6 separate regions of the Homo sapiens genome follow, and regions 2, 3, 4, 5 and 6 are each linked to region 1. The links come from fine-mapping of genetic effects on gene expression. A gene starts in region 1. Each other region holds a variant in brackets. All regions are shown on one strand. Distances are between the middles of the regions.

Evidence for each region. PIP is the estimated chance that this variant, and not a neighbour inherited with it, causes the effect. A credible set is the group of variants that fine-mapping cannot tell apart.
Region 2: its variant is the best candidate, but not a certain one, in a credible set for the expression of ADAMTS12 in nucleus accumbens (GTEx, PIP 0.68).
Region 3: its variant is the best candidate, but not a certain one, in a credible set for the expression of ADAMTS12 in nucleus accumbens (GTEx, PIP 0.63).
Region 4: its variant is the best candidate, but not a certain one, in a credible set for the expression of ADAMTS12 in testis (GTEx, PIP 0.69).
Region 5: its variant is the best candidate, but not a certain one, in a credible set for the expression of ADAMTS12 in fibroblasts (GTEx, PIP 0.84).
Region 6: its variant is the best candidate, but not a certain one, in a credible set for the expression of ADAMTS12 in lung (TOPMed, PIP 0.50).

The regions. Positions count from the first base shown.
Region 1 is chr5:33,890,016-33,895,088 of GRCh38, reverse strand. ADAMTS12 (ADAM metallopeptidase with thrombospondin type 1 motif 12) reads left to right here and starts at 3,099. Exons shown (of 24, transcript NM_030955.4): 1 at 3,099-3,359. The coding sequence starts at 3,233. RefSeq lists enhancers at 2,816-3,315, 3,316-3,817.
Region 2 is chr5:33,792,341-33,797,413 of GRCh38, reverse strand. The region is part of intron 2 of ADAMTS12 (ADAM metallopeptidase with thrombospondin type 1 motif 12); the gene reads left to right. Among named protein-coding and RNA genes, the nearest start is that of ADAMTS12, 97 kb to the left of the region's middle. The variant C/T (reference allele first, on the strand shown) is at 2,352.
Region 3 is chr5:33,538,607-33,543,679 of GRCh38, reverse strand. The region is part of intron 22 of ADAMTS12 (ADAM metallopeptidase with thrombospondin type 1 motif 12); the gene reads left to right. Among named protein-coding and RNA genes, the nearest start is that of TARS1, 100 kb to the right of the region's middle. The variant G/A (reference allele first, on the strand shown) is at 3,115.
Region 4 is chr5:33,589,643-33,594,715 of GRCh38, reverse strand. All of the region lies in intron 17 of ADAMTS12 (ADAM metallopeptidase with thrombospondin type 1 motif 12), which reads left to right. Among named protein-coding and RNA genes, the nearest start is that of TARS1, 150 kb to the right of the region's middle. The variant T/A (reference allele first, on the strand shown) is at 2,924.
Region 5 is chr5:33,801,465-33,806,537 of GRCh38, reverse strand. All of the region lies in intron 2 of ADAMTS12 (ADAM metallopeptidase with thrombospondin type 1 motif 12), which reads left to right. Among named protein-coding and RNA genes, the nearest start is that of ADAMTS12, 88 kb to the left of the region's middle. The variant G/A (reference allele first, on the strand shown) is at 2,227.
Region 6 is chr5:33,575,466-33,580,538 of GRCh38, reverse strand. It overlaps ADAMTS12 (ADAM metallopeptidase with thrombospondin type 1 motif 12), which reads left to right. Exons shown (of 24, transcript NM_030955.4): 19 at 3,379-4,485. Among named protein-coding and RNA genes, the nearest start is that of TARS1, 140 kb to the right of the region's middle. RefSeq lists an enhancer at 3,297-4,496. The variant GT/T (reference allele first, on the strand shown) is at 2,798.

The DNA of each region.
Region 1 (5,073 bases):
TGCTACATCTTTTAACTTCTCTGAACTTTAGTGCTTCATCCTGATTTTACTTTCACAGCCACTTAATCCTAGGCAAGTTACTTAACCTTTCAGTGTCTGTTTCCTCATCTATAAAATGAAGATACTAATGGTACCCACATAATAAGTTTTTTATGAAGTTTAAGTAAAGCAATACCCATATAGTCTTTAGCACAGAGCCAAGCATATAGTCAGCATGTAATAAATGCTTGCTATTCTTAGCTATCATTCAACTCTGGAATCTTGCATGGTTTTGTAGTGTTTCCTCAAGGGCAGCATGTTTGTATAAGCTCAGAGGTAGTTTGGATACTATGCAGTGATTCACAGTTCTGCTATCTACAGTGGGCAGGAGAGGTAGTTGGCTTTTTTATTGCTACCAACCTTGGTCACCAAGGGGATTTGTTACCTTTTCTCATTAAGCAGAAGCAAAGTTGAGGAGGATTAAGTCTCTCTACGCTGAGGTAACTCCAAGCTTTGGAGAGATTTTTGTAAATTCTGGAAAGAGTAGGAGGAACGTTAGAATAGTAGCAGAATGTATATTTGTGCTAAGTCATGTTGAGAACGTGCTAAAGTTGGAGACATGAATTGATAGTTGCACAATTAGATGCAATTATGTGAGTTTTTTCAACAGCACTTGGAAACAGAGAGCAGAGAAAATCAGCAGCTAGGGTAAAACAGAGTTAGATTTTGATGAGGAAGATATGAGATGTTGAATGTACTGGTTTAAGGAGGTGGATCAAAGGGTATGACTGGGCAAAAAAGGTGGTGAGTCCAGAGAGATGCTGATTATTAGAAAACCAAAGATGGGGAGATCAAGGAACTAGAAGTTCCTACTAGGCTGAAGATCCGAGGTACTGGGTATAAAGGTTTGGAAGGGCTGGCAGAATACAAAGTGTTGGTGGGATTTTATAATTTTAATATTTCAGTCTTGGTTGACTTATGGATAATAGATATTCCTGGTTATGGTCTTGAGAGTAGATGGGAGAAAGAATAAGGGAAATGCCATTAGAGTTGAAGAGGCTAAACTGTGAAGCCAGAGTGTTCAGTGTATCATCCCTGATATTGGTGGAACTCAGCAGTTCTCCAGAGTTCTTCAGGTTTCTGCCTGAGAGACAAATCTCTTCTCCAGGACCTGGGAGCTAGGAGTGATCTTGCCCTTTGGACAAGATCTTGCTTGCTATTAAAAGGAGCAGCAGGAGAAAAAAAGGTGGAAGAAGAAGAGTGACAGAAGAGTACAAGGAGGAGAGAGAAACAAGGAAAGGGTGAAGGGAAGCAAAGAAGAAGGGGAAGAGGAAGAAAAGAAAAGAAGCAAAAAGAATTCTAGCCCAAAGTTGTTCTTCAATGCCCTTGCAAATGCAGGTCATCATGCCTGTGTTATCTGAATGTCTTTTAACTCCAGTTGTGATCCTGCTTCCTAATGTTTACGTAACAGAAAAAAGGCTCAGAGTAGTTCTTTTACTTGCTTGTGACAACAAAACATGTTCTGTTACACGTAAAGGGGATTTAAGGTTGCAGATGGAATTAAGGTTGCTAATCAGCTGATTAGGAGAGTGTCCTGGTTAACCAGGATGAGTCTAATGTAATCGCAAGGGTCCTTATAAGTGGAAAAGGGAGGAAGAAGAGTGATGTGATGTGAGAAAGACTCAAAGGGCCATTGCTAGCTTTGATGGGGGAAGAGGGCCATGAGCTGAGGAATTCAGGCAGCCTCTAGAAGTTGGAAAAGGCAAGACAACAGATTCTCCCCTAGAGTCTTCAGAAATGAATGCAGCTGTGCTAACTCCTTGATTTTAGCCCAGTGAGACCAGTTTCAGATCAGAACTGTCACATAAGAAATTTGAGTTGTTTCAAGCCACTGAATTTATGGTAACTTGTAACACCAAAAATAGGAAACTAGCATATACCTCTCAAAGTCTTGGTGCCCATGTGTTCCACATCTGAGAGGACCACCTTGCTTTCAGACCACTGAGTTTGCCTTGGAGGCTCTGTCCCTATACAAGGTTGAGTAAGCTGGTATCCCAGAACTCTTGATTAACACATGTGGTTGGCTGGCAGCCAGGGAAAAGTCAATATTGGGGGCCGAATTCTTCCTGAATGGAGTAAGGAGGCCTGTTTCAGCTCAGAGGTGAAAAATCTTGGCTGGATTAGCCCAGTAAATTCTCAAGATGCCTGGCAAGCGTCCTGGATTGTGGCATTCTCTGACCGATGTAAAAGCTTGAGCCTCTGAATGAATGGACGCCCTCTCCAGGGTAGCCAGTTCAGGGAAACTGGGGAGATACCTTAACACCTTCCTGGGTTGACTTAATTCCTGGTTTCCTTTTGAGTGAATGGAGGTGGGCTAGGAAAGATGGGGTTCTAGAATCAGAAGAGCCGCACAGAGATCTGCAGACTCAGAGGGGCCCACAGGCATTTGCAGCAGTCACCTCATTGCACAGCTGAGGGGGCTTGTCTGAGGTCACATTAGCAGATTAGCGCAGCCCATTTCCCTTTGTGTGACTTGGCAAAGAGAAAAATCGCCTATTAGTTTTTCCAGTGGAAGAGAATCCCAGAGCGGTCCGAGTGGGTGAGGAGTCTTGATAGAGCGATGTTGGGAAAAGTTCAGGAACTTGGAGGAGAACAGCAGGGGAGGGGGCAGCGCTGAGCGCGGAAGGATGGAGGGAGTGGGGCCCCCCTCTGCCTCAACTCTGTTCTCCTCATTTTGAGCTTGTATTTAAGCACGCCGGGGGGCTGGCCTGGGGGCCTCTCACTCGCAGCTTCCTCCAGTGCCTCCCAGGGCGGCTCTCCCGGGTCTCCCCTATTTGGCCGGCTCGGCCAGCTGGGCCTGGCGTTCGGGGCGGGGCCGGAGGAGCGCGGGGGTGGGAGTCCGGGAGGAAGATGCACCGAGCGGGCGGGCTGCGAGGCCGCGGGGCATGCGGGAGGCGGAGGGGTGGGGACCGGGGTGGGCTGCGCCCTCCCGCTCTGGCCCATTCCACACCCCGCCGAAAGCGGACACTGTCAGCTGAATCACTCCCCTTTTAGGAGGAGGGAGGGGAAAAAGGTGTCTAGCTCCTTTCTGCTTAAAAAAGCACAGGGAGATCGCGGGCAGCTTTGCAGTCGCTGCCTTCTCGCGCCTGACCATGCACCCCTGCATCTTCCTGCTGGGCCACAGGCGAGCGCTTTATTTCTGGAGCTGAGGGCTAAAACTTTTTTGACTTTTCTTCTCCTCAACATCTGAATCATGCCATGTGCCCAGAGGAGCTGGCTTGCAAACCTTTCCGTGGTGGCTCAGCTCCTTAACTTTGGGGCGCTTTGCTATGGGAGACAGCCTCAGCCAGGCCCGGTTCGCTTCCCGGACAGGAGGCAAGGTTAGTGACTCTTCTTTATTTCTTTTTAAAACAGTGGTGGTAAGACTTGCGGGAATTTTGTTGCTCCCCTTTCCCTTCCCCCACCCGGCAGAACTGAACTCTGAAAAGCCATTTGGCTGCGTTGTAAGGAAATCTGGGCTGGGACCTCAGGAGCCTAGGCTTTCTCAGAATTCAGTGCTTAAGGTGATGAGTCCTTCATTCTTATAGAAAGGTGAGTACCTCACTCTTTTACAGGGATGACACTGCAGTCTTTGAAAGACCCAAGAGGTAGCTGGTAACTTTTTCTCTTTTGTCTCCTCTTTGAATGCTGTACTGTTTTGATCCCCTATTTTTCAGACTCTAAACATGGAAAATTTTTTTTTTAAGTGCTAACTGGCTACTGGCCGTCATTGCAGTGTTTCTAGTTAGTTTTAAACCTCTGGTCAGGAAAGGGGAAATGTGATTCTTCCCCCCTACTGAGCAGGCTTGGCTGTGTTTTGGTTTCCTGGAAAGATTTAGGGTTGTATTTTTGAAAGAATAGTCCTTTTGGGGGAACTATACCTCCATAAGGGCTCACTTTTTCCTGTCCTGTCTCACTGACCACAGCTGGCTGCTTCTCTTTATGAATTTCTGAACTCATGTTATTGTAGGAAGCATTGGAAGCGTTCTGGTGGACAATTTGTTGTTGTTGTTTTATTCTTTTAAGCCTAACAGTCAGCAGTTTATTGGACTTGGAAGGGTCAGAGGCACCTTCATGTTTGGTGGGGGGTTCATTGTACCTCTGGGGGTAAACAGTCCTAGCAGCAGCAATGGCCCGCGTGGCACTCTGTGTCAGCCCATCCGATCACTGGCAATAGCCTTCCAGGGTGCAGGTACCAGTGTTGCTGTCCCTGCTGTACAGATGAGGATGCTGCAGCTTGGAGAGCTTATGAGGCCAGCTAATGTAGAGCAGAGTTTTCAGCTCAGGTAGTCTGACTCTTAGAATCATGCAGCACTGTCCTGTAGCAATAATAGGGACACACACGCACACACACACGCATATGCACCCACACGCATGCACACGCACACAGAGCACTGGGTTAGCATGCACTAAGTCCTGTGTTTGCTGACTGTGCTGAAGCCTCGGGAAGTGTCCTCCATGACTTTCTGACATCCCTTTAATTCCCAAGGCCACTCGGGTGATAAACATCACCAGCCTGTCCTTGTTTAGGATTTCTAAGCAGGGTTTTCTGCTCATGTTGTAAAATTCAAATATTGCTGGACAACTCATCTGCTGTGGCTTCAAGACGTATCAGAAGCAAGTCCCTCTCTTTGCTTTACTTGGAAAGCTGGAGCCAGCAAACACTGGGGTTAGATGTCAGTCAGCCAGCACTCACTTGTGTAAACGGTCCAGATACAATCTCCCACCCCCAAGTTTAAAATAGCAGGGCTTGTTGTTCTTTGAAAAACAGTTCCTTTGTGAAAAGTCTCCCTTCTGGGGCAGCACAAACAAAGCCTGCAAGCACTTCCCAGGGCATTTGGAGATGATTTCGTTCAAAGACACACATTCTCCTGGGTTGGTTTTCAGCTCTGCTCCACATCTTCTTTGTAAGGGAATTCAGCTTGGTGTGAAGCAGACACCACGGGGCCATGGTTTTTGCTCTCTGGAAAGTGAGATATGATTATTTTCCCTAGTCACCTCTATCTAGAGCTATGTGCTGAGAGTATCCACTGTTCAAAAAACCTATAAAGTGCT
Region 2 (5,073 bases), 98 kb after region 1:
GCAGTTACACACTCTGTTCACAACTTCTTTAATTCCAGTGTTTACTAACTTCCCTATTTCTTATAACTCCAGGAGATAGCATTTAATTAGTCTCCAGTGTCAATGGCATATCCTCCCATTTTATAGGGCAGGAGCCCTCTTCAACAGGCTTGGCCAGGAAGATTACAGACCCTTGACCACTCAAGGTCTGTAAAAGTGAAGTCTAAATTCTTCTTGCTAGCAACTGGCATGGGGCTGTGGGAGGCTAGGCATCTAGATTTGTTGACGTGATGTAAAGAGTTGCTTGTTCACATTCTTGTTATCAGGATATTATTTTTTCATGCCTGGATTTAGAGATGCCTTTATAGAAGAAGGTTTCTCAGAGTCCTCTCAGTCCTGCCTTCTGTGAGGTTTTTGCCTTTCAATTTGGACATGCTTTGATCCAGTAGTTGGAGAGAAGTCAAGCTTCCTTGAAGGAGTCTCTATCCATCAACAATCACTGAGTTCATCATCCAGTCTTCCATTCCCAAAGGCTGGACTTAGGGAGTCCACAGCTCTCATTTGAAAGCACATAATTTTATGTTTTTTAATCAAATGATGATGAGGGTGAAGTTTGGCTTTGGGGAGGCTTTTGAAGTTGCTCCTTGCACCATTTCTTTTCCTGCTCTTCATAGACCCTACAGGATCCAGGTTGCCATAGGCTTGATCTCAGCACATATATACTTTCAAGATAAACTTAGGAAAGGGAAGAAACTCTGAGGCCCATGCTGGTATGTAAATGGTCTGGCCTGGAAGTGACATGTGTCATTTACTCTTACAACTCATTGGCAAAAACTAGACATGAGGCCCCATCCAACCACAAGGGATGAGGGAATTCAGCTCTCCATCTGCCTATAAGAAGAGAAGTTCTGGATGTCAGTGAGCAACACCTTTTTAGGCACTGCAGGTGTATATAAATGCTACATACCTATATTAATATACATAATTTTAAAATGAAATGTATGAAGAAATAAATGTGTAGGAAATCACTAACAATAAAAATGGTGTCATACTGTGTTCTGTAATTTGGTGCTTTTCATGCAACAATATACCTTGGCATCCTTCCATGTCAGTATGTAAGTTGCATTTGTTCTAAAGTTTGCACAGTAGTGTGTTCCTTTCCTTTACTGATGCATCCTCCAGCACCTACTGGTGATGAACTCTGTGATTGTTGGTGGATAGAGTATGCCACGCTTTATGCTGGGTGCCAGAGTGAAGAAGATGGCAGTGGCAGTCCTGCATGGCACATTCTGCAGCATATCCACAGTACGTATGTGCCATGATCTATTGTCCTATTGGTGTCCCTGTAGATGAGACTTAGATGTTACAAACAATGCCACAGGCAACATTGTTGCACACACATCTTTGGGCATTTGCTTGAGTTTTTTCTCTTGTATGGACAGCAGAAAATAAAAGTTGCAAATTCCAGCATTTCTTCATGTGCCCAGAAAGATTCTATTTATCACAATGGAAGAGAGAATGGACTCTTCAGAGTGGGGCTCTCCAAATGGAATTTCTAAGTATTTTTTTGCCTGGGCTTTGTTCTCAGCTTAGGCCAGCATTTAATTGTGTGTGAAGTAATCGGCCTCAGGCACTTTGTTCCTTCATTCCCTTCAGCTTTTACTTCTACCAGTGGGGAGTATAGTGGCGAATTTTCAAAACCCTCCACATTTGGGCTGAGGTGGCTCTTACTGACAGAGACGAAGAATGGCTCCCACATCCCAGCTCCCCCATTCCTCCACATTGGGAGTATAGCCAGAGCTTGAGGAGTCTGTCCATTCACCACCGCTCCTCTGAGGAGCGTAGTTGCTGGAGTCCCTTTGTGCTTCTGAATGACATTTCTTAAGGTTGTTCGTATGAAATGAGACTATTTCCTAGTTTCAGTGCTACGTGAATAGATTTATTTTTCGATTTAAAATTTTTTTTCATTTGACGTAGGGATTCTGGAATTTGGTAATTTTTAATATTTCTGCCACCTTTTCCAGATGTCTCTTGTCTTTTAGTGCACTACATCGTGGGGCATTTGGTGAGAGCAACACTTTTTTGTTGTTGTTCCCACAGGGATTTCTATCTGGGTTGGTGTATTATAATATATTGAGACATTTCCAATCACTGAATTCGCCAGCCTAATGATTCCCGTCTCTTTACAGGTAGGGCAGTGCCATTTGTAAGCACACTGGGTGCCAGGGCAGATGCTTGCAGATTAGATTTACTGGAATCTTTCAGCCCATGGGTCCTGTGATGCTTTTACAGCCAGAACTATAGAGAAATTATTTCCAGCTTTCCTCTGCTATGCATGTAGTTTCCAAATAAAATCCAGACTTTGCTGTACA[C/T]GTAAGTCTGTTCTTGTGACCAGCTGCTTGAAATGAACAAACTTTTCAAATGTCTTTTTTAAAAAAACTTGGTCACTTTTTAATTAATTTTTAAAATATGTAAATAATGGGTTCTCTGGGAGAAAAAGGACATCATTAGGGAACTGTCCTTTGAGGAGTATTTCAAGCTGCCGATGGAGTTATTTTTCACTGATGACAGCTCAGGATGTGATTCATAGTGCTGGAGATCATACCACTTTCCTACTCTTAAGTTCTGGAGTCAGCGATCTCCCCCGCTGGCCCCTTGCAGATAGAGGAAGATACTCAGGTGTGTACCTCAGATGCCTGCCATATCAAGGGCTGCTGAGATACATTCACATCTTAACAGGCAGCTGCTGCTGGTTCTGCTACTGATGTGCCATCCACAGTGCCGGTTTCCAAGGAAAATGGAGCGTAGGAAGAAGTGCCGTGCCTACCTGCACCTCGGTCTCCATTGCCAGCAGACAGTGCATATTTGATTTACTTAATTGAGTGGCAGAGCTATACAGAGAGAAGTCAGTGTAGCAGGATGAGAATAAGCTGCAGCAGGCTGGGTGCAGAAAACCAGAATCTTCCCAGGCATGCAGCTGGCTTTCCGCTCACCGGCTCAGCACCATCTTGCCTGCTTGCGCAACCTCCACTCTCCACTCTTGAAGTAATGAGGACCGGAATTTTAGCTCCAGATCGACTGCAAGAACAAACCAGCAATCCCAAGAGGCCCCACAGACCCTCTGAAGGAAGCGGACTTCTCCTGCAGGACCGGAAGAGACACCCCAAATACTGTGAGTGCCCCAGCTGCGGAAGTGGGAAAGGGAGACCCTCCTCTCCCAAGCACACACCTCCACTGGAGAAGCTGAAGGTCTGTTTGCGGGAGAAGTTTCCGACTTTACTTGGAACTGAGTCAAGTTAGTGAGCCGAGCGAAATACAGAGGTAGAGGAAGCAACAGGAAGGCCCTGGGAGCTCCCTGGGTCCTCAAGCAGCCCATTCCCGCTGGGCACCACAGGGATTCATGGGGAGGGTGGGCAGAGGAGCAGGGGGTAAACTCCACGGGGAGGAGGAATTCTCTAGCTGAACTTTGTAACAATTTGAAAGCGGCGAGAAGCCTCCTGACCAGAACTTGCGGGAGAGTGCAAATCGGGCATGCAGACTTCACAGGCGGGGAGGGGGGAAGAACTAAAGCCCTTTTCTCTCACAGCTGGGAGGAAGATGGTCTTGGGCAAATTTTCAAGCCCATCTCGCCCTTCGCCTGGGAACAGACTTGGGATTGTTGGTGGGGGCACGGTGGGAGTGAGATTGGCCCTTCAGTTTGCATGGGAGCTGAGTGAGGCCTGTGACTGCCGGCTTTCCCCCACTTCCCTGAGTTGCTGTGGATATTAAATTGAATATGTGGATATGGAGCTTCATGTGGAAATACATTAAACAAATAAGAAAAAAAAGTTTGGGTAAAATAATCCAATACAGTCTCTCATTTCAAAAAATCTTAAATTCAATTTAAAAAATGTGACTAGATAACTTTCCATTTATGTCGATATTTATAGCCCATCCAGATTTTAAGAAACTTCACTCTCTAAAACATCTGTTCCTGGTTGCTTAATCAAATTCAGGGTTTTAAACTATTTTAAGCAATTCAGAAGATTATTCTTAAGTAATCAAAAAAATAAAGTTTATTCTATGGGAACATTTGATATTTTGCTTTAACATTTTGAACAGATTCTCATTTTGTTGGGGGGTCTGACCTTCACCCATGATTTTAAGTGTTCAGCCTCATTACACACAAACCTTATCTGTCCATGGTCCCAAATAGTTAGAGCTCATGTTTCTTGTTTGTATTTGTGAACAGAAATTTTTAGCAAGGAATAAAATAAGATTAGTCCTTTATCTGAAACACACTGGAGATAAATTGGATAGCCGTAATTGAGGAAGAGCCGTGGTGGCCAAGAGGCCAAAGTCCTGAGGCAGATGAAACCCCAGTGATCCACTGTGGCACACATCCCGAATGAAGGCAAATTCATGGACACTAAGCCTGGTTCCCAGAACTCAGTGCCTGCTGTTGTGCTTGATGTTTAGGGAGTGCTATGGGAAAGAGACAACAGAGGACACAGGCTCCTTTCAGAAGGCTACCTTGGGAGATTGACTTCTGTGCCAGTCCAGGGGAACCACAAGTAAACCATGTTCAGTTGTCCAGATTGTGCACTGAGCAATAACACCAGCCAAAGGTTGAGTGGAGTTGGAGTTCGGCTCACACTCTGCTCACCAAGTTGTCCCTTATGTGCAGGACTGCAAGTATAGAGAAGAGGCTATGACTGGCTTTTCAAGGATACTATCTTCTTGTTTTTGTTCTGTGCCTATGGAAACAGCCTGATAACCAAGTGTCAGTCTGTTCTGCCAATCATTGCTCCACACAGGGTCAGAGATAGCTGCAGTGGCAGGTGTTGAATCAACACATATCTGCTGAACATCACCTGTGCTTAACACTTGTGCCAGGCTCTTTGAGGGATAAAAAGTATAATAAGCCCACCAAATTCAATAATTGGATGTCAATTATGTAAACTGTAGAGATATTATCACGAGGTCAAGGAAAACCAGTACTTTTCAGACAGAATTTTAGTCCTATCTAATTTTCTCAAATGGGCACTGGATGAAGTAGGGGAGCCAGTTACGTGACATGCACATTCATGGTATCAAGCAATTGGCTCTATAGTA
Region 3 (5,073 bases), 350 kb after region 1:
GAAGCCGACTTGATAATGGTGGATAAGCTTTTTGATGTGCTCCTTGATTCAGTTTGCCAGTATTTTATTGAGGATTTTTGCACTGATGTTCATCATGGATATTGGTCTAAAATTCTTTTTTTGTTGTGTCTCTGCCAGGCTTTGGTATCAGGATGATGCTGGCCTCATAAAATGAGTTACAGAGGATTCCCTCTTTTTCTATTGATTGGAATAGTTTCAGAATAAATGGTACTAGCTCCTCTTTGTACCTCTGGTAGAATTCGCGTGTGAATCCTTCTGGTCCTGGACTTTTTTTGGTTGTTAGGCTGTTAATTATTGCCTCAATTTCAGAGTCTGTTATTGGGCTATTCAGAGATTCATCTTCTTCCTGGTTTAGCCTTGGTAGGGTGTATGTGTCCAAGAATTTATCCATTTTATCTGGGTTTTCCAGTTTATTTTCATAGAGGTGTTTATAGTATTCTCTGATGGTAGTTTGTATTTCTGTAGGTTGGTGGCGACATCCCCTGTATCATTTTTTATTGCGTCTATTTGATTCTTCTCTCTTTTCTTCTTTTTTAGTCTTGCTAGCGGTCTATCAATTTTGTTGATCTTTTCAAAAAACCAGCTCCTGGATTCATTCAGTTTTTGAAGGGTTTGTTGTATCTCTATCTCCTTCAGTTCTGCTCTGATCTTAGTTATTTCTTGCCTTCTGCTAGCTTTTGAATTTGTTTCCTCTCGCTTCTCTAGTTCTTTTAATTGTGATGTTAGGGTGTCGATTTTAGATCTTTCCTGCTTTCTCTTGTGGGCATTTAGTGTTATAAATTTCCCTCTACATGCTGCTTTAAATGTGTCCCAGAGATTCTGGTACATTGTGTCTTTCTTCTCACTGGTTTCAAAGAACGCCTTTATTTCTGCCTTCATTTCGTTATGTACCCAGTAGTCATTCAGGAGCAAGTTGTTCAGTTTCCATATAGTTGTGTGGTTTTGAGTGAGTTTCTTAATCCTAAATTCTAATTTGATTGCACTGTGGTCTGAGAGACAGTTTGTTGTGATTTCCGTTCTTTTACATTTGCTGAGGAGTGCTTTACTTCCAATTATGTGTTCAATTTTAGAATAAGTGTGATGTGGTGCTGAGAAGAATGTATCTTCTGTTGATTTGGGGTGAAGAGTTCTGTAGATGTCTAATAGGTTTGCTTGGTGCAGAGCTGAATTCAAGTCCTGGATATCCTTGTTAACCTTCTGTCTCCTTGATCTGTCTAATATTGACAGTGGGGTGTTAAAGTCTCCCATTATTATTGTGTGGGAGTCTAAGTCTCTTTGTAGGTCTCTAAGTCTAAGTCTCTTTGTAGGTCTCTAAGGACTTGCTTTATGAATCTGGGTGCTCCTGTATTGGGTGCATGTATATTTAGGATAGTTAGCTCTTGTTGAATTGGTCCCTTTACCATTATGTAATGGCTTTCTTTGTCTCTTTTGATCTTTGTTGGTTTAAAGTCTGTTTTATCAGAGACTAGGATTGCAACCCCTGCTTTTTTTTTGCTTTCTATTTGCTTGGTAGATCTTCCTCCATCCCTTTTTTTTTGAGCCTATGTGTTTCTCTGCATGTGAGATGGGTCTCCTGAATATACACACCAATGGGTCTTGACTCTTTATCCAAAATGCTAGTCTGTGTCTTTTAATTGGGGCATTTAGCCCATTTACATTGAAGGTTAGTATTGTTATGTGTGAATTTGATCCTGTCATTATGATGCTAGCTGGTTATTTTGCCCGTTAATTGATGCAGTTTCTTCCTAGCATTGATGGTCTTTACAATTTGGCATGTTTTTGCAGTGGCTGGTACCGGTTGTTGCTTTCCATGTTTAGTGCTTCCTTCAGGAGCTCTTTTGTAAGGCAGGCCTGGTGGTGACAAAATCTCTCAGCATTTGCTTGTCTGTAAATGATTTTATTTCTCCTTCACTTATGAAGCTTAGTTTGGTTGTATATGAAATTCTGGGTTGAAAATTCTTTTCTTTAAGAATGTTGAATATTGGCCCCCACTCTCTTCTCTCTTGTAGGGTTTCTGCAGAGTGTCAGCCACTGTTAGTGTGATGGGCTTCCCTTTGTGGGTAACCCGACCTTTCTCTCTGGCTCCCCTTAACATTTTTTCCTTCATTTCAGCCTTGGTGAATCTGACAATTATGTGTCTTAGGGTTGCTCTTCTCGAGGAGTATCTTTGTGGTGTTCTCTGTATTTCCTGAGTTTGAATGTTGGCCTGCCTTGCTAGGTTGGGGAAGTTTTCCTGGATAATATCTTGAAGAGTGTTTTCCAACTTGGTTCCATTCTTCTCCTCACTTTCAGGTACATTAATCAAATGTAGATTTGGTCTTTTCACATAGTCCCATATTTCTTGGAGGCTTTGTTTGTTTCTTTTTACTCTTTATCTCTAAACTTGTCTTCTCACTTTATTTCATTAATTTAATCTTCAATCACTGACACTTTTTCTTCCACTTGATTGAATCTGCTATTGAAGCTTATGCATGCGTCACGAAGTTCTGATGCCATGGTTTTCAGCTCCATCAGGTCATTTAAGGTCTTCTCTACACTGTTTATTCGAGTTAGCCATTCATCTAACCTTTTGTCCAAGATTTTTAGCTTCCTTCTGATGGGTTAGAACATGTCCTTTAGCTCAGAGAAATTGTTATTACTGACCTTCCGAAGCCTACTTCTGTCAACTCGTCAAAGTCATTCTCCATCCAGCTTTGTTCCAGTGCTGGTGAGGAGCTACGATCCTTTGAAGGAGAAGAGGAACTCCAGTTTTTAGAATTTTCACCTTTTCTGCTCTGGTTTCTCCCCATCTTTGTGGTTTTACCTATTTTGGTCTTTGATGTTGGTGACCTACAGATGGGGTTTTTGGTGTAGATGTCCTTTTTGTTGATGTTGATGCTATTCCTTTCTGTTTGTTAGTTTTCCTTCTAACAGTCAGATCCCTCAGCTGCAGAGCTGTTGGAGTTTGCTGGAGGTCCACTCCAGACCCTGTTTGCCTGGGTATCACCAGCAGAGGCTGCAGAGCAGCAAATATTGCAGAAGAGCAAATATTGCTGCCTGATCCTTCCCCTGGAAGCTTCGTCCCAGAGGGTCAGCTGCCTATATGATGTGTCT[G/A]TTGGCCCCTGCTGGGAGGTGTGTTCCAGTTAGGCTACACAAGGGTCAGGGACCCACTTGAGGAGGCAGTCTGTCCATTCTCAGAGCTCAAACACCATGCTGGGAGAACCACTGCTCTCTTCAGAGCTGTCAGACAGGGATGTTTAAGTCTGCAGAAGTTGTCTGCTGCCTTTTGTTCAGCTATGCCCTGCCCACAGAGGTGGAGTCTACAGAGGCAGTAGGCCGTGCTGAGCTGTGGTGGGCTCCGCCCAGTTCGAGCTTCCTGGCCACTTTGTTTACCTACTCAAGCCTCAGCAATGGTGGACACCCCTCCCCCAGCTAGGTTGTCACCTCACCATTTGATCTCAGACTGCTGCGCTAGCAATGAGCAAGGCTCCGTGAGTGTGGGACCTGCCGAACCAGGCACAGGAGAGAATCTCCTTGTCTGCCAGTTGCTAAGACCTTGGGAAAAGTGCAGTATTTGAGTGGGAGTATCCCATTTTTCCAGGTACAGTCTGTCATGGCTTCCCTTGGATAGGAAAGGGCAATCCCCCAACCCCTTGCACTTCCCGGGTGAAGCGACGCCCCGCCCTGCTTCCGCTCGCCCTCCATGGTGCAGGGACAGCTGCACCCACTGTCCAACCAGTCCCAGTGAGATGAACCAGGTACCTCAGTTGGAAATGCAGAAATTACTCATCTTGTGTCGATCTCGCTGGGAGCTGCAGACCAGAGCTCTTCCTATTCAGCCATCTTGGAACCTCAATCTACTTTAGCTTTTTAAAAAAATGGTTTCTTGCCACTATACTTAAGCAAAAAAATAAAAATAAAATAGCATGCATTTTCTTTTGATTACAAAAATAATCTATACTCATTGTAAATATTCAGTGCATTCATTGATTTACAGTATGTTTCTGGATACTTCGGTTTTCGTGTTCTTCTGCCACTGAATACCTCTAAGTCTGCTAAAAGTTGACCCACGGCTGCTGTGGGTCTTGAGTTGAGAAGGGAAAATATTAAATACTTTCAAAAGAGAAAAGATCAAATATCAAAGTTATTCCAGAGGCACACAGCCTAAGAAACATCTGTTTTACAACCAGCACCTTGGATTCTCTGGCTTTTCCTAGAGCAAAGAGGAGTTGGCATCTGTCCTAAAGCTTTAGGCATAGTCAGACTTATTGAGTTTCAGGCCTCTTGTCAGCCCACAGATCAGTTTGCCAGATGGCCAGCCTGTTTGATGGAACAAAATAATTAAACTGTAAATGAAGGAAAGAGGTATTATTCTCCCTAAGCTTGCTTATTGCATAAATAACACTCTATCAGCAATACTGAAAATAAAGAAAATTGTGGCCAGGTGTGGTGGCTCACACCTGTAGTCCTAGCACTTTGGGAGGCCGAAGCAGGTGGATCACCTGAGGTCAGGAGTTCAAGACCAGCCTGGCCAACAGGGTGAAATCTCATCTCTACTAAAAATAAAAAAATTAGTCAGGCATGGTGGTACATGCCTGTAATCCCAGCTACTCCGGAGGCTGAGGCAGGAGGATCACTTGAACCCAAGAGGTGGAGGTTGCAGTGAGCCGAGATTGTACCACTGCACTCCAGCCTGGGTGACAGAGCAAGACTCCATCTCAGAAAAAGAAAATAAAGAAAATTCTCCCATGGACAGATTCTGCCATCATTCTGATTTGTCTTATCCTGGGTTTTCTATCAAATGGAATCTCGAGAAAAAATTTAACACTTTATTAGGAAATTCAGTGCCAGGGAAGCAGGGGTGATAGAAAAGAGAAAGGAGGCAGAGAAGAAGGAGAGTCAAAAATGAAGTGGTGTGTTACTAGACTGATTATCTTACCTAACTGACCATCGCTTGGTGTCAGGAGCAACTGACTGCTGGCTCTCACAGGAAGGCTTCTAAAAACTGTGTGAACTACTGCGTGTTGTGGCAGTTTATCCGGGAAGGGAGGGAAGAGTAGGAAAGAAGAAGAG
Region 4 (5,073 bases), 300 kb after region 1:
CACCACTATTGAAGCAGGACAGAAATGTGTCATTGCCTCTCCGTGCTGTAGCTCCTTCCTGTGGTTCTTTTGCCAGGAAGAACTAGAAATGACAAGGGAAGATAAGGCTAGCACTAGGTTTTACCTGAAATTGCAGTTATGTTACTTTCTCAGGGAAGAATGAGGCAGGGAAGACAGCCCTTCTTAGAGCTAGTCCATTGCCTACTACTCCACAGAGTTCATGAACTGTGAGATTTTTGACTGCTGAGAATGTTAATTAGGCACAATATAATACATACAGGTATAATTTCTGAAAATGCACTCTCAAGTAGGATATAATAAGCTAAGTAGAACTGCATGAAACATTCAGATATAATGAAGACTGGATAACTTACAAAGAAAAAGAGGTTTAATGGACTCACAGTTACATGTGGTTAGGGAGGCCTCACAATCGTGGCAGAAGGGGAAAGGCATGTCTTATGTGGCTACAGACAAGAGAGAATGAGAGCCAAGTGAAAGGGTTTTGCCCTAATAAAGCCATCAAATCTCATGAGACTTATTCACTAGCATGAGAACAGTATGGGGCAATCCGCCCCCGTGATTCAATTATCTCCCACCAGGTCCCTCCCACAACACGTGGGAATTATGGGAGCTACAATTCAAGCTGAGATTTGAGTGGGGACACAGCCAAGCCATATCAATGGCCAATTTACAAAAGTGCTTTTTATTTATGATTGCATTTTAGCTTCTACAAATATTTATGAAATAGTCATAAGACAGGGTATGGGTATTACTCTGAGGTGGTATATGAGGAGATAAAGGTTCAGAGAAATTTGATGCCATACCCTAGGGGAAATGGCTGCAGAGAAAACTAGCACTTCTTTTTTTAAATTTTACTTTAAGTTCTGGGATACATGTGCAGAATGTGCAGGATGTTCCATAGATATACATGTGCCATGGTGGTTTGCTGCACCTATCAACCCATCATCTAGGTTTTAAGCCCCGCTTGCATTAGGTATTTGTCCTAATGCTCTCCCACCCCTAGCCCCCCAACTCCCTACAGGCCCCAGTGTGTGATGTTCCCCTCCCTGTGTCCATGTGTTCTCATTGTTCAACTCCCACTTATGAGTCAGAACATGACATGGTATTTGGTTTTCTGTTCCTGTGTTAAAAACTAGCACTTTTTAAGAATGCACTATTTTCCAAGCTGTTTCCACATAACCATATCATTTAAGCCTGTAAGCAACCCTAATTTGTAGATACATTTATGCTCATTATACAAATGAAGACTCTAAAGCTTTCACCAAAATTTTCCTAGGTCACTTAGCTACAAATTGTAGAGTCGGGATTTGAACCCAGATCTGTTTGCTGTGCTGCCTCTGTATGTGCTGCTACACCATGCTGCTGCCTAGGATCTCAGGATAAGCAGGTTTCAGTACTAGAACCAGAATCCCCTACATTTAAACTTTTTCTCTCACATTAAAACACAATAAAAATGTTATGAATGCTTGACTCCAAAACTAAGTCATGCCTCCAGGTCCAAGCAATTCTCCTGCCCCAGCCTCGTGGGTAGCTGGGATTACAGGCGCACACCACCACATCTGGCTAATTTTTGTATTTTTACTAGAGATTAGGTTTCACCATGTTGGCCAGGCTGGTCTCAAACTCCTGACCTCAAGTGATCCACCCGCCTTAGCCTCCCCAAGTGCTGGGATTACAGGCATGAGCCCATGTGCCTGGCGATTTGCTTTTTTAAAAATAAATAAATAATAAACTAATATTATTTGTTTTTGCAAGATTAGTTCACTAGTTTCCTTGTATATGAATTTCAAGCTGCAATATCTTCTTCTGTCACCGAATTTCCATGATCTCTAAAAAGTTCATACCCATCACTGGGAGCTGTCATTTCCTTTCCCAAAAAATTTCCTGTGCAAGGTTTAATCTTATTTATTTATGGATCATTTTTCTTCAGTAATATCTTGTTTTTACAACCAATTTCAACATTCTGTGTTCTTCCCCAAAGGAGTATTTGAGAGAGATTTTTTTAAGATTTAATAAAAACTTTTGATTATCTAAACATAAAAAAATATATATTACATTGCCAATGGCTTTCAGGATGAAAGCCTTGTAGAGCATGTTCCAGGAGAGGGTAGGCTGTCAAGAAAGAAATTCTTTGAAAATTTAATATATCTGACTCCAGAAAGAGGTTATTTGAGTCCCTTCTCCCTACTGACTTCTCTCTGAATTTTGGTTTTCAGCAAAGCAAAGCTCTGCTAGGCCACAGCTGTGATAGTGCCTAGCATATCCAAAGTACTCAATAAACCTCTGACAGTGATTTTTTTAAACTCTGGCAGCTACATGTAGGTTTCAGTCCACAAAATAATGACATATGACTTAAATCAAGGTTTCTCAACCTCAACGCTATTGCTGCTTTGGGCTGGATAGTTTTTTTTGTTTTGTTTTGTTTTTTGTTTTTTTGTTTTTTGTTTTTTTTGTTTGTTTGTTTTGAGACGGAGTTTCGCTCTTGTTGCCCGGGCTGGAGTGCAATGGCGCAATCTCGGCTCACCGCAACCTCCGCCTCCCAGGTTCAAGCGATCCTCCTACCTCAGCCTCCCAAGTAGCTGGGATTACAAACATGTGCCACCACGCCCAGCTAATTTTTGTATTCTTTTTTTTTTAGTAGAGACGGGGTTTCTCCATTTTGGTCAGGCTGGTCTCGAACTCCCGACCTCAGGTGATCCGCCCACCTCAGCCTCCCAAAGTGCTGGGATTACAGGCGTGAGCTACCGCGCCTGGCTTACTGGGCTGGATAGTTTTTTGTTGTGGGAAGCTGTCTAGTGCCAATGTAGGAGGTTTAGCTGTATCCCTGGACTCTATCCACTAGATGCCAATAGAAACCCACCCCCCTTTCCCTGTCACCACTGATTTGTGACGACGAAAAATG[T/A]CTTCAGACATTCCCAAATGTCCCCTGGGGAGGGAAGCTGCAGAAATCTCTGCTGATTGAGACCTTCTGATCGAAATGAAAGGAATAAGATCGTTGAGACTGGGAAAAGCCCATGAAAGAGGGAAAAGGACTGAGCATGGTGTGTGTAGGGGACAAGAAAGCTAGGGAAAATGAGGCTGGAGGAATGGGATATAATGAGAATATGGAGACAATGGGTACACAGAGCCAGGAGGTAAGAGTGCTTATACTGTAGTCATGGTTTTGTCAGAATTTGAAATGTTTAGTTGAATCGGATTTTGGAATGTAAATTCTATTAGGAAAAATATTAGTACAAAGAAAGATGATAATTATAAAATTTGATTTCTTAAAGGAAATTACTATTCTCAGCAAGGGTTTAACAAATTCAGTTTTGGACTTTCATTTATCTGAGTAATGAAGGTTAGAAAGAGTGACGTGTCCTGGTTTGTTGGCGATCAGCGCTGTTGGAACATATACTGATAGGGGAATCAGTAGAAGCTACTGATAAAAGAAGGGTTCTTTTAAAAATAAAAGAGAGGTTCAAAGGGTCTCTAACCCATCCCTTCTACTTGATCTCAGAGAGGACTCATATCCAAACTACAGTAAACTTTTACAGAATTCTGGAACAACTACAGGCTCTTCAAAGATCTCAAACATAGGCACACACATACACACACACACACACACACACACTTAGACATTTAGATAAAACATAAAATCTCCATAAATATAAAAACAGTATTTTAGAAATCTCCAACAAGAGGTGGGATTATGGCAAACACCCAAAAGAATGAGATGGGCAGCAGAGAACAACTGGACCATGGCTCCTGAGCCCTGGACCTGGAAGACCTTTACAGGAAAAAAAAAAAAAAAAAAGGAAGAAGAAGATGGTTTTCACTTTAATCTTGTGAGACTAAGACTAAGCTGTTTTAGTCCATTTTGTGTGGCTGTACCAGAATACCACAGACTGGGTAATTTATAAAGAACAAATTTATTTCGTGGCCAGGTATGGTGGCTCACTCTGTAATCCCAGCACTTTGCGAGGCCGCGGCAGGATTACTTGAGCGCAGGAGTTCGAGACTAGCCTGGGTGACAAAGCAAGACCCTTTCTCTATAAAAATAAAAAATAAATTTCTTTTAAAAATAAACATTTCTCACAGTTCTGGAGATTGGATGGCCAAGATTGGAGGTTCATTTGATCTGGCGGGGGTCTTCTTGCTGCATCCTCATAAGGCTGAAGGAGGAAGGGCAACAGAGGACAAACGTTCATGTCCTCATACAGAAGAGTGAGAGGGAGTAAACCACTCCCAAATCCTTTTCCAAGTGGCCTTAATCCATTCATGATGGTAAAGCCCTCACGATCTAAACACCTCCCATCAGATCCCACCTCCCAACACTGTTATATTGAGGATTAAGTTTCTAACACATATGTTTTGGGGAACACATTCAGACTATAGCAAAATCACAGGCAATATGTCCCCTAAGGGACTGTAGAGAAAACTCCAAGAAGAGAAAACAAGAACGTCTATTATCACTTTGCAGTAATACAGCTGAAAGCCCTGTAGCAAGTACTTAGATAAATTAGGCTTTCAACCAACTCAGATTAAGACCTTTTCAGAATGGCATTTTATATATTCCCTTGGCCTGCCCTCCTTTAGAAAAGTCAGAGGCAGGACAAAGTAATTAGATTAATACAGTGGGGCACTTATTTGGTTTCACATCATACTGTTCCAATATTATTAGCTCTTTATCCACTGATGTTAAACACCAAAGAATAAATAAGTAATCTCAATTACTTATTAAATGAAGAATATGATTGAATTGAGGAATTGCTTTCTTCTGATATTTTTAACTTGAGATTAAAAGTGTCACAATCAAAAGAAATTCTACATAAATAAATCTAATATTTAGTAAATAAAAATAAAAGTAAAAAGTTTTATCTTCAAAATTACCAAAATTCAATGCTGTCTCAAGTCAGGAGGCTTTCCTGAAGTCAGGAATGAAGGACTTCCCCCAGTGTACTATTTTCCCATGAAAAATAGAAGTGCCCCACTTGTTACTATATGAAGGGATGGACAAGCGGGCTGTACACAGGAAAAATAATGGACACAAACCACACTGGGTGAAGACAC
Region 5 (5,073 bases), 89 kb after region 1:
CTCCTTGACTTGGATTTCATTGAATCGTTTAAAATTAGGTTCTGATGTTTCTACTTTTCCATGTAAGAATGTTAAAAAGTTAAAAAGTTACTTCTTTCTGCCCAACACCATTCCATTCCACAGACTGGTATTGAAAAGCCCCTGAGCTAGCTGGCCATGATGAATGGTGTTCCCAACCTCGAGGCTGTGCTTCCATTAATGACATCTCTGTGTATGGACTGGATGCATTTCTAGATTCTTCAGTGACTTCTGTATATTGGGAGTAAGGGGAGAGAAGGAACTAACACATTGAAAACACGCAGTATTTTTTTGTATTTTCATGATCTTCTGCATCATTTCATTAAATGCTTACAACATTCCTTCAAGGTACATATGACCTATATAACTAATGAGTAAGCTGAAATTCACAACAGATTTGTAGCTAGTAGATGGAAGAATAAATAATGAATTTTAAAATATTTATTCATCTTACTTGAAATTGTAAAAAAGTATCTAATTTTAGATATTTACACTTATTTACCACTTAGCAGCAGACTCTAAACATAATAAAGTTTAATTTTATTTTTAAGTGTTCTGCAATTTATGTTCTTTACAAAGTCTTTTTTTTTTTTTAAATGAGAGGTGGCTTTTTTTTCCCCCTTTTCTTTTCAGAGACAAAATCTCACTCTGTTGCCCAGGCTGGAGTGCAATGGCACAATCACAGCTCACTGTAACCTCGAACTCCTGGGCTCAAGCTATCCTCCCACCTCACCTCCCAAAGTGCTGGGATTAAGGCATAAACCACTGCACCCAGCCCTTTTTTCCTTCACAGCATACATATCATAACCTCTTTTCTCCTGTCACACATACATTTATTAGACAAACATTCATTATCAAAGTAGACACAAAAATAGTGCATAGGTCTATTCTGTGAGCTTGATGAAAGCCTCCACGCGCTCCCCTTAGGAGACCTCACTCCATTAGGATGGTCTGCAGATTCAGCACAGCCACTGCCACATTACAAGTCTGTGCAGTCAGTGATCCTCCTAATGTGATCAATTGCTGGATGTGGATCTGATTAAGGAGTAAGCCTCAGGTGCCCTATACAGACCTTGAGCCTTGCTGGGGTCTCATACCTTGTTCATGCAATGGAGAATACGGCTCAACTACCATGGCAGTTTATGTATCTCCAACATCTTTAATTTCTTTAATGAGACTGAATTTCTAGTATTCATTATGCTAATTAACAAGACCCTACTTTCACCAATAATTTTTAAAATTTGTTATATAATAATTAGCAAGCTGTGGATTGTTGATGTTGACCCAGGTAGTGGAAGTATTTGGGGAGCCTCTCCTGGAGGGTGGCTCCTTTTGTTGTAATGCTAGCTAACCACCCCAGGGCTGTGTATAAAGCATAGTGTTAGCTTGATCAATCTTAGAATTTAAATTAAAATTAACTGATGCTTACATAATATCACACTGAGTAGACTGGAATATTTTCCAGTATGTTACAGACTTCATGATGCTCACTCTCATGAGTACATTGGTACTAGTCAGACATTGTTTGTTTGTCAGGGGTGCAAAGTGGGAATGAATGGGTACTTCATCTTTGCTGTGCTGATCCCCATTGACTTTCACATTTTTTTTTATTCTGTAGTGCAGGGTTTTCTTACTATGATTTCTTGGAGTACAATGTTCTATCTCTTCACCTCCTTACTCTTAGGCTGGTAAATATCTATAGGAATGAATGGAATGGGGATGGTGAGCGGATCAGGTATATGTAATTTGAAATTTCTGAATGATTCTGATGCCACCCTTCACCCACCTCACTGCCTTAGGCTAGTTCTTCCTTTTGGCTCTATCATTCTTTTCACTTGTGAATTGCATTGCAAATATTTTATCAAAATGGTTTCTACAGTGCTGTCAATTTCCCAGGACCTCTTAGGCTGAGGAGGGAAGTGATGGGCTGTGTACCTTTCAGCACGTGTTGGGGAATGCCACTCTAAAACTCAGTGGCTTTAAACAGCCATCATTTATTCTTGCTCACACATCTGCATGTCAGTTGGGAGTTGGCTGGCTGGCTCTCCTTCCAGCTGTGAGAGAGCTGGGCTTGGCCCCTCATGCAGGGTTGGGCTCAGGTCTGCTCTCTGTATGTTCCTTCTGAGGCCAGGTTGGCAGGAGGCTCTTCCCATGGCAGTGATGGGGGTGCAGAAGGTGAGCACCACTGTGCAATCATAGCTTGTTTGC[G/A]ATGGGTTTGCTAACATCCCTTCCAACAAAAGAAGTCACATAGATGAGCCCAAAGTCAAGGGGCAGGGAACTCTATATATGAAGATGGGGGAAGAGGAAGGGAATATATATGAATAACTTAATCTACTGTGGCCTGTGAATGAAGATAATGTATTTTGGAGCAGTTTTTAGTTTGCAAAGACTTCTCCTCACCCACATACATTATCCCATTCGGTCCTTATAATAGCCCATGAGGTGTGTGTTATATCTGTCTCCATTTTTAATGAGAAAATTAAGGCCTAGGGAAGTTAAAGACATTTGGTAAAGGATGTCCAGCCAATAGGCAGCACAGCTAGGCTCTTGTCTTCTTCCCCTACATTGTTGATATGGTTTGGCTCTGTGTCCCCACCCGAATCTCACCTTGAATTGTAATAATCCCATGTTTCGTGGGAGGGATCCCATAGGAGGTAATTGAATCATGGGAGCAGGTTTTTCCCATGCTGTTCTTGTGATAATGAATAAGTCTCATGAGATTTGATGGTTTTATAAAAGGGCAGTTCCCCTGCACACACCCTCTTGCCTGCTGCCGTGTAAGATGCGTCTTGCTTCCCCTTTGCCTTTCGCCATGATTGTGAGGCCTCCCCAGCCATGTGGAACTGGAAGAATTAAACCTCTTTCCTCTATAAATTACCCAGTCTTGGGTATGCCTTTATTAGCAGTGCGAGAACAGACTAATACAATTGTCTCACTCTTCATCTGACCTCCCATGAATCATAGAGATCATTGTACTTTGCTGCCATTGGAGAACATGAAAGTAGCTGGGTATTTCTCAATGTTATTTGTTGGTGGCATCCTAAGGAATCAAACACAACCAGAATGGTTCAGGCCAGTGCACCCCACACTTCAAGGCATGTAACAGTGAAGTTGAATAACCAAGGTAGCATTTACCACTTTAGGTTGTGTATAGCGTGTACTTAATTGACTCTCTAAATGTAAGCTTCTCATTAACAGGGCTTATGTCCGGTCACCAGTAATGTGTCTGATTCTATCAGATGTTTGTTCCCACCACACTTCTTTTGGGGTTTGTAATAGTTTTGTCTGTGGGTTTTTTTGTTTAGTTATCTTAGTTTGTCTGTCTGCTTTTATGGGCGAGTTTGGAGAAATTCAAAAGCAATCCCACACTGCCTTCATCTTCCCTGGATCCATGTACCTTATCATGTATGAGTCTTTTCCTAGCCCTCTAGAGAGACTGTCTACCACCTCATTTGTGCCTTGCTGTTCCCTGGACATCCTTATCTTATAATATCAGTGACACTTGCTGATTATGGGTAAGTCTCCTTCTGAGGGCAGGGGTTGTTTTTCACTTGTGTTTGGATCTCAAGTACCTAGTTAATTGTCTGGCATGTAGAGTTCCTCAGTAAGCATTTCTTACATGAAGGAATAAACAGACTTTTGCCGCAAATAGGTCCCACATCTGGAAGAGTAAACTTGTTACCCGGTGCAAATTGCCTAATAATAGCAACTGTATTACGTCTCCCATAGAGGACTGCTATTGCTAACATTTGTAGCTTGAAAGGATGTCCAAGAATTTACTTGGGGATCAGAGTAGGGCCCCTGAGATGTAGTGTCTTAAAAAGGGAAGGCTAGGTGGTTTTCTGTTAGCTATCCCTGGATGTTAACTTTAGATGCCACCTGGGAAGAGGAAGTTGCCTGAAATCTTAAAACTTTAAGCAGAGCACCCAGTGAGGGCATTTAACGGGAGTCATGGGGAAGATGCAGAGAGCAGGGACCAGGTGGCCATCCTAGCAGTGGTTTGCATGTTGCTGTTACCATAGCACCAGTGGGTGGTCCATCCTGTGGAGCAGTGGCATCTTTGATGATGAGCACCACCTCCACTACTGTGACATTGTGGGTGGTGTCATCTTGTTTGACAAATGCTACCTGCCTGTGATTAGGATCCAATGTTGTACTTGGCCCAGCTTAGCTTTGCTTAGTTGTTTGAGCTGGAGTTCAACACAGTAACAACTTTCCAACACAGCCCCTTTCAGATAATGCTGTTTGATTAGTGTTGGAGAACTTCTCTTAGTCTTTTTGGGCTGCTATAACAAAATACTATATGTGAGTGGCTTATCAATAACAGAAATTTATTTCTCACAGTACTGGAGGCTGGAAAGTCCAAGATCAAGATGCTAGCAGATTCAGTGACTGGTGATGAAGGCCCACTTCCCAATTCATAGATAGTGCCTTCTCACTGTAACCTTACATGGTAGAATGGGAAGGCAGCTCTCTGGGGCCTTTCTTATAAGGCACTGATCTCATTCATGAGGGCTCCATTCTCATGGCCTGATCGCCTTCCCAAAGCCCTACCTCCTAATAGCATTACATTGGTGATAAGGTTTTTAACATACATTTTGGAGGGACATAAACATTCAGACCATAGCAATCTTCCACTGAAAGCTCCACTTTAATAAGTCAATGATTTGGCACTGGGATCACAAAGAGTGGAAATCACAAAGATGGGAAACACCCCAGCAGTCACCTTTAATCTTCAACCTCACGGCATTTTCTTGTTGCTTCGCTGTCTGATGTCACAATGAGTATTCATTCTTCAGTGACTGGCACTGGGACTCCCTCACCTTTGTACCTTCAGCACCATTTCTGCTACACTGTAAGTGCTTAGTAAATGTTTCTATAATGAATGAGTTTGTTTTGAGGCTCTTGTTTTTTCTGAAAGGACACCAAACCACAGTGAGAAGAAAAGAGATCTGCCTAATAACAGACAGAACCTGTTTGGGAAAGATTCAGAATGAGGAACCTGGTTATAAGTTGAGTGTGTTTCCTAATGACACATCACATTATATCATGTCA
Region 6 (5,073 bases), 310 kb after region 1:
TCTGGCTGTGTGTCCCCACCCAAATCTCATCTTGAATGGTAATCCAAATTGTAATCCCCATGTGTTGAGGGAGGGAACTCATGGGGAATGATTAGATCATGGGAGCTGTTCCCCCGTGCTGTTCTTGTGACAGTGAGTTCCCATGAGATCTGAGGGTTTTATCAGGGGCTTTCCCCACTTCAGTCTGCACTTGTCTCTCCTGCCGCCATGTGAAGAAGGATGTGTCTGCTTCCCCTTCCACCATGATTGTAAGTTTCCTGAGGCCTCCCCACCCATGCAGAACTGTGAGTCAATTAAACTGCTTTCCTTCATAAATTTCCCTGTCTGGTATTTCTTTATAGCAGCATGAAAACAAACTAATACAGTAGCTTTTCTTCACTCCTGCCTTACCCTTTTAGGTTGAGCAAATTCACACCATCAGTAAGATTACTTAGTTCTTGTTATTGGTAAATTTGAAAACCACATATCCATCGGTTGGCTCTAGGAAATCTGAATCTAAAAACATCCAGCAGTAAACCAGTAGGGGGTGTGTGGATCTCCACAGTATCTTGTAGACATGTGCCTGCACCTACCTCACCAAGACAGCTGCTCACGTCACACCTCCCTGTTGAGACAATTCTGTGTGTCACCCACAAGGGCAGTAGAAATTGGGGAACCCCAAGCCTTTTGTTATGATCACTATTATTATTATCAGCATCATTATTAGAACAGTGATAATAATAGCTTTCAATCACTAATTGTCTTCATATGTTATGCCACCTCTGTTAAGCCTGTTGTTGAAGGTAATCCACACAGTAGCCTGCAAAGGTAGGTGCTGCTGTCTCTGTTTCCAGGTGAGGAAGCTGACTTAGTCACCGAATCACACAAGGAGTTAATATGATACATCAGGGAATTTAAGCTATTTCTCAGAGGTTTTATAGTTTTTTGACTTCATAGTTCAATGGGGAGGTGGAGGGGATATGATCCTATACTTTGGCATTTAAAATTTTTTTGTAAAAGTGTACAAGTAAAGCTAACTTCTTTAGAGATATTAGCAACATTTCAAGTCAAAACAAACCAAAAAGAAAAAGAGAAAGAAGAGAAAGAAAATAAAAATAGAAGCGTTTCCTATTATGTTACTATCTAGTCTAATACTTCATGGAAAGGAAAGCCGAAAGAGAGCCACCTGTTGCCTGAGAAGAGTTGGCAGTAGCTGGGACCTCAGTTATCAGTCAGCTCTCAAGACTGAGCCTGCCTGAGGCAGCCAGCATGGAAATGTGTTCACACATACAAAACTGATCAGTTTTACAAAGTGGGGATTTGAAAATCCAAGAAGTTCAGATTAGAATGTAATAAATGGAGAGGGACTCAGCGTGACTAAAATAGATGGAGCACAGAGTATCTTCCTACACAAGAAGGGAAGAAACAGTGCAGCAAACCAGGAAGATAAATACCTCCTGCCTTCCCTTTCTAGGTCCAGGGAGAAGTGAGTCATGGACCATGCCAGAAGAGACTGTTTCCTCCCTGTTGGGCTCTGACACTTGCAGTTGGTAGCCCCCACTTTGGTGGGAAATGATTGTGCATTAAGCATCATTTCCGCCCAAATTATTATTATTATTATTTCAAAACAAATCTGGAAGTTCCATCTTGGAGTGACTTGCTTTAATATTTTGTGGACATCTTAAATCCACAGCTTCACTGGTTGGGTCCAAACACAGTTCGACACTCCTTCAGCTGTACATTCTCCTGTGCTCACAGCATCTGCTTTTCAAAAGAGCTGATTTCACAGAGCTGTTTTACATCAGTAAGTGATTATGTTTGATTGAAACAAAATAAAGGAGAAGTTTTCTATGTCAATATTATGTTCCTACTTAGAGAAAACTGAAAATAGAACTTGAGAAGGCAAGGAACTTAATCTAAATGCAGAAGCTCATGAGTGAGAATTTTTCCATTCCTGATTTTTTTTTCCAGGTAAAAGAGTCACTTAATTAATATGTATAAGGTGATCACTGTGTCCTCAGAACTATCCTGGAATTCCATTATGAATAAAAAACAGTTCCTGCCTTTGGATAGCTTTTAATAAATCAAAAGTCACTGAGTGAACTCCATGGACAGCTACTTGTACAGTGTGTTGCACTAGGTTTGGGGATGGGGGTAAAAATAAATCTAATGCTTATTCTATGACTGACTTGCCGCCTTTCAAGTGAGTTCCTGGGCCTCAGGCTCCTCACTTGTGGGAGGCAGAATAACAGTTCCTGCCTTGTACATCTCATAGGGACGTCATGTATATCACACAGAATAATGTTTGCGCAGCCCTTTGAAATCATTATGCAGTCCCCATCCTTAAGAAATGTGCTTTGAGGTCAGGGATACCTGACAGAGAAATGTAAAATGACCAGTGAAGACCCCTGGGTGGTCTGTGCTCAAGTGCCAACTATTTGGTGGTTGACTTCAAATGCCATTGGAAAGAGAAGCTAAAAATGGAACCATTTGGTAAAAGTACGGATTTTTCAAAATATTTAGACATTTAGTGTTTTATAGCAACTCCATATCTGCCATTCACAGGTGTTGAAATTGATGCAATGAAGATTCTTTACCATGTATCCTGAGGAAGGCCTGTTCTGTTAGGATTCCCCCAAAGGCAGTCTAGCTGCTTGGGCTTCAGCATGGCATACAGAATGTGGAGGGAACATTGGGGAGGGGCACTTACCAGTACCCGAATATATACCTCAGTGCCATGCTGAGGGATTGACCGAACTCCTTGGGAAAGGCTATTTCCTACCTTTGATTAACTATGTACCTTTAAATTTTAGAGTAG[GT/T]CTTGGATCTATGCACCTGTGTGAGTATGGTGATTATCTAGCTTTTAATCTGATTCCACCTGCCATAGGCAAGTGAAAATGGAGCTTAAGGTACCTGGGGAAAATGTGTGAGTTATGATAGTTGCTTTCTAAATAGAAAGGGAAAGGTTCCTTATACCGAATTTCATATTCCAGAGAATATGCACACATTATACATTAATTTAATAAAATCACAATCCCAGAAAAGAGACAGTGTGACTTACTAGCTCTTTAAAAGATTTAGCAACTTGTGTAAACCATTGCATTCATTGTGGATCCCGCCATCCATGATTCACAGCCCAAAGGGACTGCAGTTTGACTACATCATGGTTTACATTTTCAGTTTGTGAAGAATAAATGGTTGAGACTGAGTCCCAGCTGGTCTCCAGGAGATACATATTTCCATGGAAAACTGAAAGAGCACAGAAACCAAATGTAGATAGCAGACAATTTTAGCTGCATAGTTTAGTTTCCATCAGGCCTGTTTTGATCTGTTATAGACCTAACCATGAGAATAAAAGCATCTTCTCTCGCCAGGCTAACAGCTGTTTCTCTCTTCTAGTGTTCTGTTTCCTGTGGTGGTGGAGTGCGGATTCGCAGTGTCACATGTGCCAAGAACCATGATGAACCTTGCGATGTGACAAGGAAACCCAACAGCCGAGCTCTGTGTGGCCTCCAGCAATGCCCTTCTAGCCGGAGAGTTCTGAAACCAAACAAAGGCACTATTTCCAATGGAAAAAACCCACCAACACTAAAGCCCGTCCCTCCACCTACATCCAGGCCCAGAATGCTGACCACACCCACAGGGCCTGAGTCTATGAGCACAAGCACTCCAGCAATCAGCAGCCCTAGTCCTACCACAGCCTCCAAAGAAGGAGACCTGGGTGGGAAACAGTGGCAAGATAGCTCAACCCAACCTGAGCTGAGCTCTCGCTATCTCATTTCCACTGGAAGCACTTCCCAGCCCATCCTCACTTCCCAATCCTTGAGCATTCAGCCAAGTGAGGAAAATGTTTCCAGTTCAGATACTGGTCCTACCTCGGAGGGAGGCCTTGTAGCTACAACAACAAGTGGTTCTGGCTTGTCATCTTCCCGCAACCCTATCACTTGGCCTGTGACTCCATTTTACAATACCTTGACCAAAGGTCCAGAAATGGAGATTCACAGTGGCTCAGGGGAAGAAAGAGAACAGCCTGAGGACAAAGATGAAAGCAATCCTGTAATATGGACCAAGATCAGAGTACCTGGAAATGACGCTCCAGTGGAAAGTACAGAAATGCCACTTGCACCTCCACTAACACCAGATCTCAGCAGGGAGTCCTGGTGGCCACCCTTCAGCACAGTAATGGAAGGACTGCTCCCCAGCCAAAGGCCCACTACTTCCGAAACTGGGACACCCAGAGTTGAGGGGATGGTTACTGAAAAGCCAGCCAACACTCTGCTCCCTCTGGGAGGAGACCACCAGCCAGAACCCTCAGGAAAGACGGCAAACCGTAACCACCTGAAACTTCCAAACAACATGAACCAAACAAAAAGTTCTGAACCAGTCCTGACTGAGGAGGATGCAACAAGTCTGATTACTGAGGGCTTTTTGCTAAATGCCTCCAATTACAAGCAGCTCACAAACGGCCACGGCTCTGCACACTGGATCGTCGGAAACTGGAGCGAGGTAAGACATTTCCTACCCCTGGCCTGGTTTTACATGGAAAAAAGCTAGGAGTGTTAAATTCATGTGAAAATTTCAAAATGAGTTTGCATTAAAATATATTCTATTGTGAAAACAAAAGGAAGCAATCAGACCCATGCCCTCCCCTCCCTCCTTACCCCCATAACTCTTTAAATGGAAAAAAAATTATGTAAATTATATAACTTGTGAAATTGTATAGATATATTGTCTAGCTTTTAATCTGATTCTACCTGACCCAACCAAATGAGAGTTCCTGCCGTGTACAATTCTGAAGGATGTTGTGTATATCACACAGAATAATGTCTGTGCAGCCCTTTGAAATCATTATGCAGTCCCCATCCTTAAGAAACCTGTTTTGAGATCAGGGATACAAGACAGAGAAAGGTAAACTGACCAGTGAAGACCCCTGGGTGGTCTATGTTCAAGTGCCAACTGTTTGGTGGTTGACTTAAAATGTCATTGGAAAGGGAAGCTAAAAATTTATATATAGGGAAGGAGAACAAATGTAGTGAGATATAGTGAAAAGTACCCTGAACTAAGCTAGGAAGCCTGGGCATTCGGCTGTGTGAT